Regions from separate parts of the Homo sapiens genome. Here all the other regions are linked to region 3. Evidence: fine-mapped expression QTL. A gene starts in region 3. Each other region holds a variant in brackets. All regions are shown on one strand. Distances are between the middles of the regions.

Region 1 (2,500 bases), 30 kb before region 3:
GCAGCACAGGGAAGGCCTGAGGGGCATGAGCGGCCCTGGGGTGAGGGAGGGTACCACGGGCTGTGCATGGGTGCCCTGTCTCAGCTACCCCAACTCTGGGGACCTCGGGGCATGTCCATTCCCCACTCCAGGCCTCAGTTTCCCCATCAGGGATCAAGAACTTCAGGGACCCTTGCTCTAACATCCTAGGGCTCCCTGGACTTCTCAGATTCCTATGAGCCCATGTGGGTGGGGAAGGACTTTTCCTGCCACCTGATGTCCGGCCCCTTCCAATTCCACCTGACACCACCACCCTGGAAGTCCCTCTGATCCAGTCCCCCTCGATTCCTGCCAGTGGAACCCAGACCTGCCCTGCTTATACGATTTCCCCAGTGAAACACACTCCAGGCAGGAGGGCCAACCTCTGAGGACTCAGGTATCATGTCCAGCAAACAGGACAATAAAGCCCATGACTGCAGGCTGTTGCGATGGAGCGTGTGAAAGTGTTAAGAGACAACAGGGAGGTGGGCTCAGCCCCTAGAGGTTGAGGCAGGTGCAGCCCTCACAGGCTGCAGGCACCGCCCTGGTGCCTCCAGGGAGCACCACAGCCCCCAGCCCAGCTGGACCCAGCCCCTCTTCCATGCCCGGCCCTTCCCCCAGCTCTGCGGTCCCGGATCCCTGGGCTGAACCTGGCCCCATAACCTCCACCAAAGTCAAATACCCAGAACGCTGCTTGGCCCAAGTTTCTACGAATCAGCCTCCAGGGCCGGCTGGCCCACCCCCTCCCCACTTCCTGTTTTCAAGCCGCTCACAGCGCCCCAGGCAGGGATGCTGGGTAATGTGGTCAGGTGGCTTTCATGTGATCCCCCTCCTTCCTCTGCTACCCCTCCAGGATACAGCCACCTTGTTTGTGCAAAAAAACAGTGTCTCTCCCACCTATCCCAGGAGCCCCACCTTCATCCGCTCGTCGGCGTTCACTTTGCTGCCCTGGATGAGCTCGATGCGGAACGGCTGCTCCAGGGACCACAGGGACACAGAGGAAGGCTGGGGGCCGGGGAAGCAGGGCTGTTAACACGGCTCAAAGTGCAGCTTGTCTCCCTGGCCTATGG[T/C]GAGGCCCGTGACCACTTGGGGGCGGGTGAGAGGGTCACAGGTTTGCGGCCAGGTTTGGGCCTGTCCACAATGCTATCCTTTCCCAGAAAACCTGCCATGCGGGCTCCCCAGGGGGCCCCAACACCCCTGAGCTCTGCAGAGGGGAAGGGCAGCCGGTGAGCCAGGCATGGGGCTGCCCCCCACCCACGGCAGTCCCACAGGCCCCCAGCCCAGGACGCTGGTCAGCTGTGTTGGCTTCCCCAGCTCAAAGCCCCAGCTCTCCATACCAAGGGCCCCTGGACCCATGGCCAGTAGCACATGGAGTTGGACGCCAGGTGGAAAGAAGGGGTGGCTCAGAGGGGAGGCGGAAGGCGCCATCTCACCTTCTTCGCAGGAATGGGAGGTGGTTTGGCACGCGGTTTCTGGACCTGGGGGGCAGGGTTGCTCTGCTCATCCCGCATGGCGAGGATGGAGGAGGAATGGACCATGGTCAGGTGAGGGGTCAACCCACTGTGCAGGCAGCTGCAGATGTACTGAGACGGGGTGCAGGGTGAGCGGCTGGTGGGGCGGCCCCAACCACTCCCTGGACACCAGGATTCCCAGGACCCCCCAAGCTGCCCACTGCCTGTCCTAGGCCTTGGGAGAGGGGAGGGCTTCCTGCTGGTTTTTCCTGCCCCACCTCCACCTCCCAAGACGGAGCCCCTCCTTGTGCTCTCAGAGAGGGCCAGCCCTACCAGGGGATGCTCTGGCGGTGACCCAAAGGCCTGGCTCGGCAGGCTCAAGGTGCGCCCAAATGTCAGCTCCCCGACTCCCACCCAGGCCCTATCCAGGGCGTTGGGAGCCCAGAGTGCAGAGGGCCTCAGCGGCCTCACCTGGAACTGGCAGAGCGGGTAGCTGCCATACAGGTACTCATGCCTGCCGTTCACCTGCAGCGTGTAGTCTTCCGGCTGCTCCACCAGCGGCTGCCGGAACACTGTGGCCTTCTTCCGCAGGGCACAGGCCATCAGCGCCAGCGGCACGTCCTTGGTGGACACCTGGAAGGTGAAGCTCTCCTGTGGGGAGGAGGGAGGTCAGTCCTCTGCCCTCGAGGCCCCCCGGGGTTCTGGGGCACAGGGCAGGGTTGCCTATTTGCCCCCAAGGGTAGGGTCTGGGGAGTTCACAAATGACACTGGGAAATATTTGTTCAAAGAATGAACAAACTGATGCCCAATGCCCCACGCCACTTGGTTATCCTGCCACGTTGAGCTTGCCTGGGGGGACGTTCAGTTGAGCCCCACACATGCACAGACACCTGGCAAACACCATCTGATGCCACTGGGGGAGGGGGGCTTGCGGATGACTGAGGAGTTTCACAGAGGAAGTGCTCCCCATGGACAGAGCAGCCTGGATGCCGCAGGCCACGCATGGGCTCACCTCGCTGCCCTCAAACTTA
Region 2 (2,837 bases), 43 kb after region 3:
TCGTGATGTGCACTGCATCTGTTAATAAACTTGCTTGGTTTTCACGTGAATCTGTCTTTTGTTACGGCGGGCTGTCCCAACTATGAACTTACCGGGGCTGAGGAGAAGTTATATTTTCTCCCTGATACGTACAACCGCCCAGCAAGGTAAATCTTATCCCCAATTTACGGATGAGAAAACTGAGGCTCAGGAAAGTTGAGTCCTTTTTCAGGGCCACACAGTCTATAAATATCTATTATAATAACTTCTTCCAGATCCTTGCTACTTTCACCATGCCATGGGTCTCGTTAGGCCTCTGTCCTAAGAAGTTTCACTTTCGGCCAGGTGCGGTGGCTCCCGCCTGTAATCCCAGCACTTTGGGAGGCTGAGGTGGGCGGATCACCTGAGGCCAGGAGTTTGAGACCAGCCTGGCCAACGTGACAAAACCCCATCTCTACTAAAAATAAAAATAAAAATAAAAAAATAAAAAATAAAAAATAAAAATACGGCCAGGCACAGTGTCATGCCTGTAATCCCAGCACTCTGGGAGGCCTAGGCAGGTGGATCACCTGAGGTCAGGGGTTCACGACCATGCTGGCCAACAGGTGAAACCCCATCTCTACTAAAAATACAAAAAATTAGCTGAGCATGGTGGCGGGCACCTGTAATCCCAGCTACTCAGGAGGCTGAGGCAGGAGAATTGCTTAAACTCAGGAAGTAGAGGTGCAGTGAGCCAAGATCATGCCATTGCACTCCAGTCTGGGCAACAAGAGCGAAACTCTGTCTCAAAAAAAAAAAAAAAAAAATTAGCCATTCCTGGTGGCAGGCACTTGTAATCCCAGCTACTTGGGAGACTGAGGCAGGAGAATTGCCTCAGTGAGCCGAGATCATGCCATTGCACTCCAGCCTGGGCAACAAGAGCGAAGCTTCATCTCAAAAAAATAAATAAATAAATAAATAAAATAAAATAGAAGTTTCACTTTCCTGAAAACCTGATACACTTCCTTTTTGAAACCGTGACCCTAGGGACTTATCATGACCCTCTCTTTTGCTTGGGGTGCCAGGAAGCTTAAGCTAAATTTAACATTCAAGCTGGGCAAGCGGTGGCTCACGCCTCTAATCCCAGCACTTTGGGAGGCCGAGGCAGGTGGATCGCCTGAAGTCAGGAGTTTGCGACTAGACTGGCCAACAGGTGAAACCTCATCTCTACTAAAACACAAAAATTAGCCAGGTGTGGTGGTGGGTGCCTGTAATCCCAGCTACCGGTTGAGGCAGGAGAATCACTTGAACCCAGGAGGCGGAGGTGGCAGTGAGCCGAGGTTGCGCCACTGCACTCCAGCCTGGGTGACAGAACAAGACTCCGTCTCAAAAAAAAAAAAAAAAAAGAAAAGAAAAGAAAAGAAAAGAAAAATAGGCCTGGAGATCTGGGCAAGCTCTGCGGAAGGGCCTGCAGTGTGCTTCTGCCCGTCCAAGCCTGTTCTCCACTGACCAGCCCCACCCTTTAATGACTAACACCTCTTTTCTCTTCCATCAAATGGGGCCA[A/C]AGTATTTCCCAATCAGTATTAATTTCCTGAGAAAGGAGCGGAAGGCCCCAGAGCTGATGTAAGTAATGCATGTTGGTTGACTTTCTTGCAGCTAAGGGGCCATTTTTCTTCTAGGATTGCTGTCCATTCTCCACTGCAACTAGTTCATTTTTTTTGACAATTCAAAGGGAACTTGAGGTAGCTTCCTCCAAGGCACACATGACAACAGTTAAAAATAAAGCTAGAGAGCTCAGAAACTGCATAGAGGAAGGCAGCAGCCGATTCTATCAGGAACTTGAAGAACGATGATGGCTGTTCTTGAAGGTTACATATTTATTTATTTATTTATTTATTTATTTATTTATTTATTTGAGACGGAGTCTTCCTCGTCATCCAGGCTGGAATGCAGTGGTGAGATCTCGGCTCACTGCAACCTCCGCTTCCTGGGTTCAAGTGATTCTCCTGCCTCAGCCTCCCAAGTAGCTGGGACTACCTACAGGCGCCCACCACCACGCCCAGCTAATTTTGTATTTTTAGTAGAGACAGGGTTTCACCATGTTGGCCAGGCTGGTCTCAAACTCCTGACCTCAGGTGATCCTCCTGACTCAAGCCCCCCAAAGTGCTGGGATTCCAGGCGTGAGCCACCACTCCAGCCCAGGCTTTCTTCTTTCCTGTAACCCTCTCCTGCAGAACGTCCCTGCAGAACTTCCCCTCCAAAAGCCAAGCAACTCACAGCTTCTTCTCACAAATGCTGCAAACATTTTTGTTTTGCTCAACCCGGAGTGGCTTCACCACCACCACCCACGCATGCCCATAAGAAGGGTTATCACAGGGCAGCCACTCTGAGCACCCAGGGAGTGGGGGCTGCAAGTGTGAGAAGCCCACTTCTTCAGCCCCTGCACAAGGGACTCCAGACACTGCCTCCATGCCCCATCCTGGCAGGAAGCCCACTTTGCTGGGTGTGGGTCTTTTCCTTCCAGGCGAGGCAGAAACTACCCAGCTCGAGTCTTTACCCTTTGCTTTGGCCAGGAAAAGTATAGTGAAGCTTAGGGGTTAAGAGCACCTTCTTTGGAACCAAACTGCCTGGCCCTGCCACTGTGGAGCTGTGTGACCTTAGGTGACTTAACCTCTCTATGCCTCTGCTTCCTCATCTGTAGCCTGGGGACACTAATAATGGTGCTCAACTTTCAGAACTGCTGTTGGGATTAAATGAATTAATATATGTAAAATGTTTATAACTGTACCTGACACAGAGGGCACCCTCAGAAAATGTGAGTTTTTGAGCTATCTTAGTTATATTCTAGAACGGCATCTTTGGGCTTTGCAGGATTGGAT
Region 3 (2,837 bases):
CTGGACCCAGGTCACAGAGCCGGAGCCAGACTCACTCGAGTAATTGGCCAGCCCGGGCTCTGGGCTCAAATCCAGCCTGCTGGCTGTTCCCTAGCTGATGGGCCTTTCCATCGGGGGTTCCCTTATATGTGAGATTTAGAAAATAAATGAGTGTACCTAGCACTTTCACTAATGCATCTATCCATTACAACGGGCGGTGTGCGTGCAGTAACAACACCGAGACAATCCTTGTCCCGCACTTAAAAAAAACTCTGGGCGCTCCAGTGTTTTTGTTTTTGAGACAGGGTCTTGCTCTGTTGCCCTGGCTGGGGTGCAGTGGTGCGATCATAGCTCACTGTAGCCTCTACCTCTCTGGCTCAATCGATCCTCTCACCCCAGCCTCCCGTGTAGCTGAGACCTCAAGTGCGCACCACCTCACTCAGCTAATTTTTTAAAATTTTTTGTAGAGGCGGGGGTCTAACTATGTTGCCTACGCTGGTCTCGAACTCCTGGGCTCAAGCCATCCTACCGCGTCAGCCTCCCAAAGTGCTCGGCCAGGCGCTCCAGTTTTTATCCAGGCATCTACACTGTAAGATAGATGTTGTTCTCCCTTGGTTGTAAGTGGGGAAGCCGAAGCTAGGCGGGCAGGGACTCTCACCCTCACGTACTCACACAAACACTGTCTGCACAGCCTCTTGGGCAGAGCTAGCGCTGGCACCAGTTTAGTTTGGTGCTGAAACCATACCCCTCTTGCTCTGCAAGAGCCCATCTCCCCTTAGAATATTCTTTCGGGTCCACAGCCCAAGACAAACCTTTGCCACAGGGGAACGCAGAGGAGGAAGCGGGGTGCGAGCACCAGAATCAGCCCTGGCGTGTCCCGCGGGGTGGTAGAAGGTGGTTTGAAGAACACTCCTTGGTGGTCCTAATTGCTGCACGTGAGGTCAAGGCAGGGCCGCCCATCCCAGGCAGATGAGCTCCAGGAGCCTTCCTCGTGCCTGAGAAGACGGCAAGGAGAAAACACTGCCGGCTGGAAGCCCTCGAGAATCTCGAAGAAGCCCAGAATGAAAGGACCAGGCGGCCGGGACTCGGAGCTCCCTAGCCAGGGCGCGCGCAGCCAGGCCTGACGCTTCCCTCCGCCCTCGGCGGCCTCTGCGTCCTCCCAGCACCCGGCAGCCTTGCCAGGGGTCCCGGATGCCCAGAGCACCCCCCAAGGAGGAGAGAGAAGAGAGGGAGTCCAGGATGAGAAGACGGGGGGCCAGGGTGGGAGGGGACACTCCTCTTCCCTGGCCGTCCCTAGAAGTCACACACAGACATTCACTCAAAAAGACACGCATGCAGATGCGCACACACAGACACAGGCGCAATCATGTAAACGGACACACAGAGACCACAGACGCTCGTGCTCATACACGCGCTCTCGCTCTTCACACCCTGCACCAGGTGGGCACTCACCCGCCCGCACCCTGGCTGTGCTTTCACAGATCCCGGGAGAGGGCGGAGCCCGGGCCGGGGGCTGGAGACCGCCCCCGGCCCCGCCCCCACGCCCTCCCATCTCTCCCTCCTTCCTGCCGTCCCCCGCCTGAGGGAGGGGAGCGGTGCAGCAGACATCCGAGGGCAGCTGGGACCCCCTGACTCAGCCGACGGGTGAGTCAGGCTCCCTGCAGGCCACACCGGACCCCCCCAGGGCGGGGATTTCCCCAAGATGAGAAATCAGCCACCGGAAGTCACGCCGGACCTTGGACGGGCAGACAGAGGCTGGGAGGAGTTCTGGGTGCAGAGCCCCCCAACCTGGTAAGTACAATGATCCCAGGGCTAGGACACCAACGAGATTTTCCAAAGGGCAGACGAGCTTCAGCGGTTCCTCCACCCCCATTCCCCACGTGTGGGAGCCCTCCTCCCTAGCGGCCCCGTCCTGCAATCGTCCCCCTGCGCGAAGACTTCCGTTTATCTCCAGCATGGATGGAGGGAAAGTCAAGCTCAAACACAAGGTCCCCATCAGCAATGGAACCCAATGATCCGCTGGGGGTTCAAATTGGGGGTGTCAGGCACGGGTGTCTCTGGAGCCCAGAGAAAAATCCAAGATTCTTTGAAATGGCAAAAGCCCCCAAAAGTGACTTTCTTGTATTGCCACGATGAACTGGAACTGCCCTGACAAACTCTAAAAAGATAGAGACCTTAATAAATTGTGTAGAGAAGAATTAAAAGAGTGAATACAGATGCATGGAAAATCTCTAGAACAGTGCCTGGCACTCATATTAAGTATTGGCTCTCACACATGGATAACAGACACAAGGAGACCAAGTGACTTGCCCCAGGTGGCACAACTAGTTAGTGGCAGAGATGGAGGAAAAACCAGTCTCTGATTCTTTGTTCACAGCTCAGGTACCTTCAGTCCTTTCTGAAATTAAGTGAGAGTATAAATAAAGTCATTTAGTGGATAAATGAATTTTACCACTGTTAAATATCAGAGTAGACCTGGCACAGTGGCTCACGCCTGTAGTCCCAGCACTTTGGGAGGCCAGGGCAGGAGGATCACTTGAGCCCAGGAGTTCAAGACCAGCCTGGGCCACACAGTGAGACCCCCGTCTCTATTTTAAAAAGAAAAGAAAAATCAGAGTAAATTAAGGCGGGCACGGTGGCTCACGCCTGTAATCTCAGCACTTTGCGAGGCCGAGGTGGGAGGATCATTTAAGGCCAGGAGTTTAAGAACAACCTGGGCAAAACAGTGAGACCTCGTCTCTACTAAAAAAAAAAAAAAAAGAAAATTAGCCTGGCATGGTGGCATTTGCCTGTAGTCCTAGCTACTTAGGAGGCCAAGGGAGAAGGATTGCTTGGCCCAGAAGTCTGCGGTGAGCTAT

What was found.
Region 1: its variant is fine-mapped to the expression of PIK3CD-AS2 in whole blood (TOPMed, PIP above 0.99).
Region 2: its variant is fine-mapped to the expression of PIK3CD-AS2 in nasal epithelium (TOPMed, PIP above 0.99).

The regions. Positions count from the first base shown.
Region 1 is chr1:9,716,060-9,718,559 of GRCh38, reverse strand. PIK3CD (phosphatidylinositol-4,5-bisphosphate 3-kinase catalytic subunit delta) reads right to left here. Exons shown (of 24, transcript NM_005026.5): 5 at 2,482-2,500; 6 at 1,941-2,120; 7 at 1,452-1,601; 8 at 934-1,023. LOC124903839 (a long non-coding RNA gene) reads left to right here. Exons shown (of 2, transcript XR_007065457.1): 2 at 190-457. Among named protein-coding and RNA genes, the nearest start is that of PIK3CD-AS2, 30 kb to the right of the region's middle. RefSeq lists enhancers at 1-275, 1,252-2,227, 2,228-2,500 and a silencer at 531-600. The variant T/C (reference allele first, on the strand shown) is at 1,089.
Region 2 is chr1:9,643,553-9,646,389 of GRCh38, reverse strand. It overlaps a transcript of PIK3CD not described here. Among named protein-coding and RNA genes, the nearest start is that of PIK3CD, 6.8 kb to the left of the region's middle. The variant A/C (reference allele first, on the strand shown) is at 1,523.
Region 3 is chr1:9,686,268-9,689,104 of GRCh38, reverse strand. It overlaps PIK3CD-AS2 (PIK3CD antisense RNA 2), which reads left to right and starts at 1,531. Exons shown (of 2, transcript NR_126367.1): 1 at 1,531-1,770. The region is part of intron 1 of PIK3CD (phosphatidylinositol-4,5-bisphosphate 3-kinase catalytic subunit delta); the gene reads right to left. RefSeq lists silencers at 897-1,091, 1,417-1,556 and an enhancer at 1,607-1,776.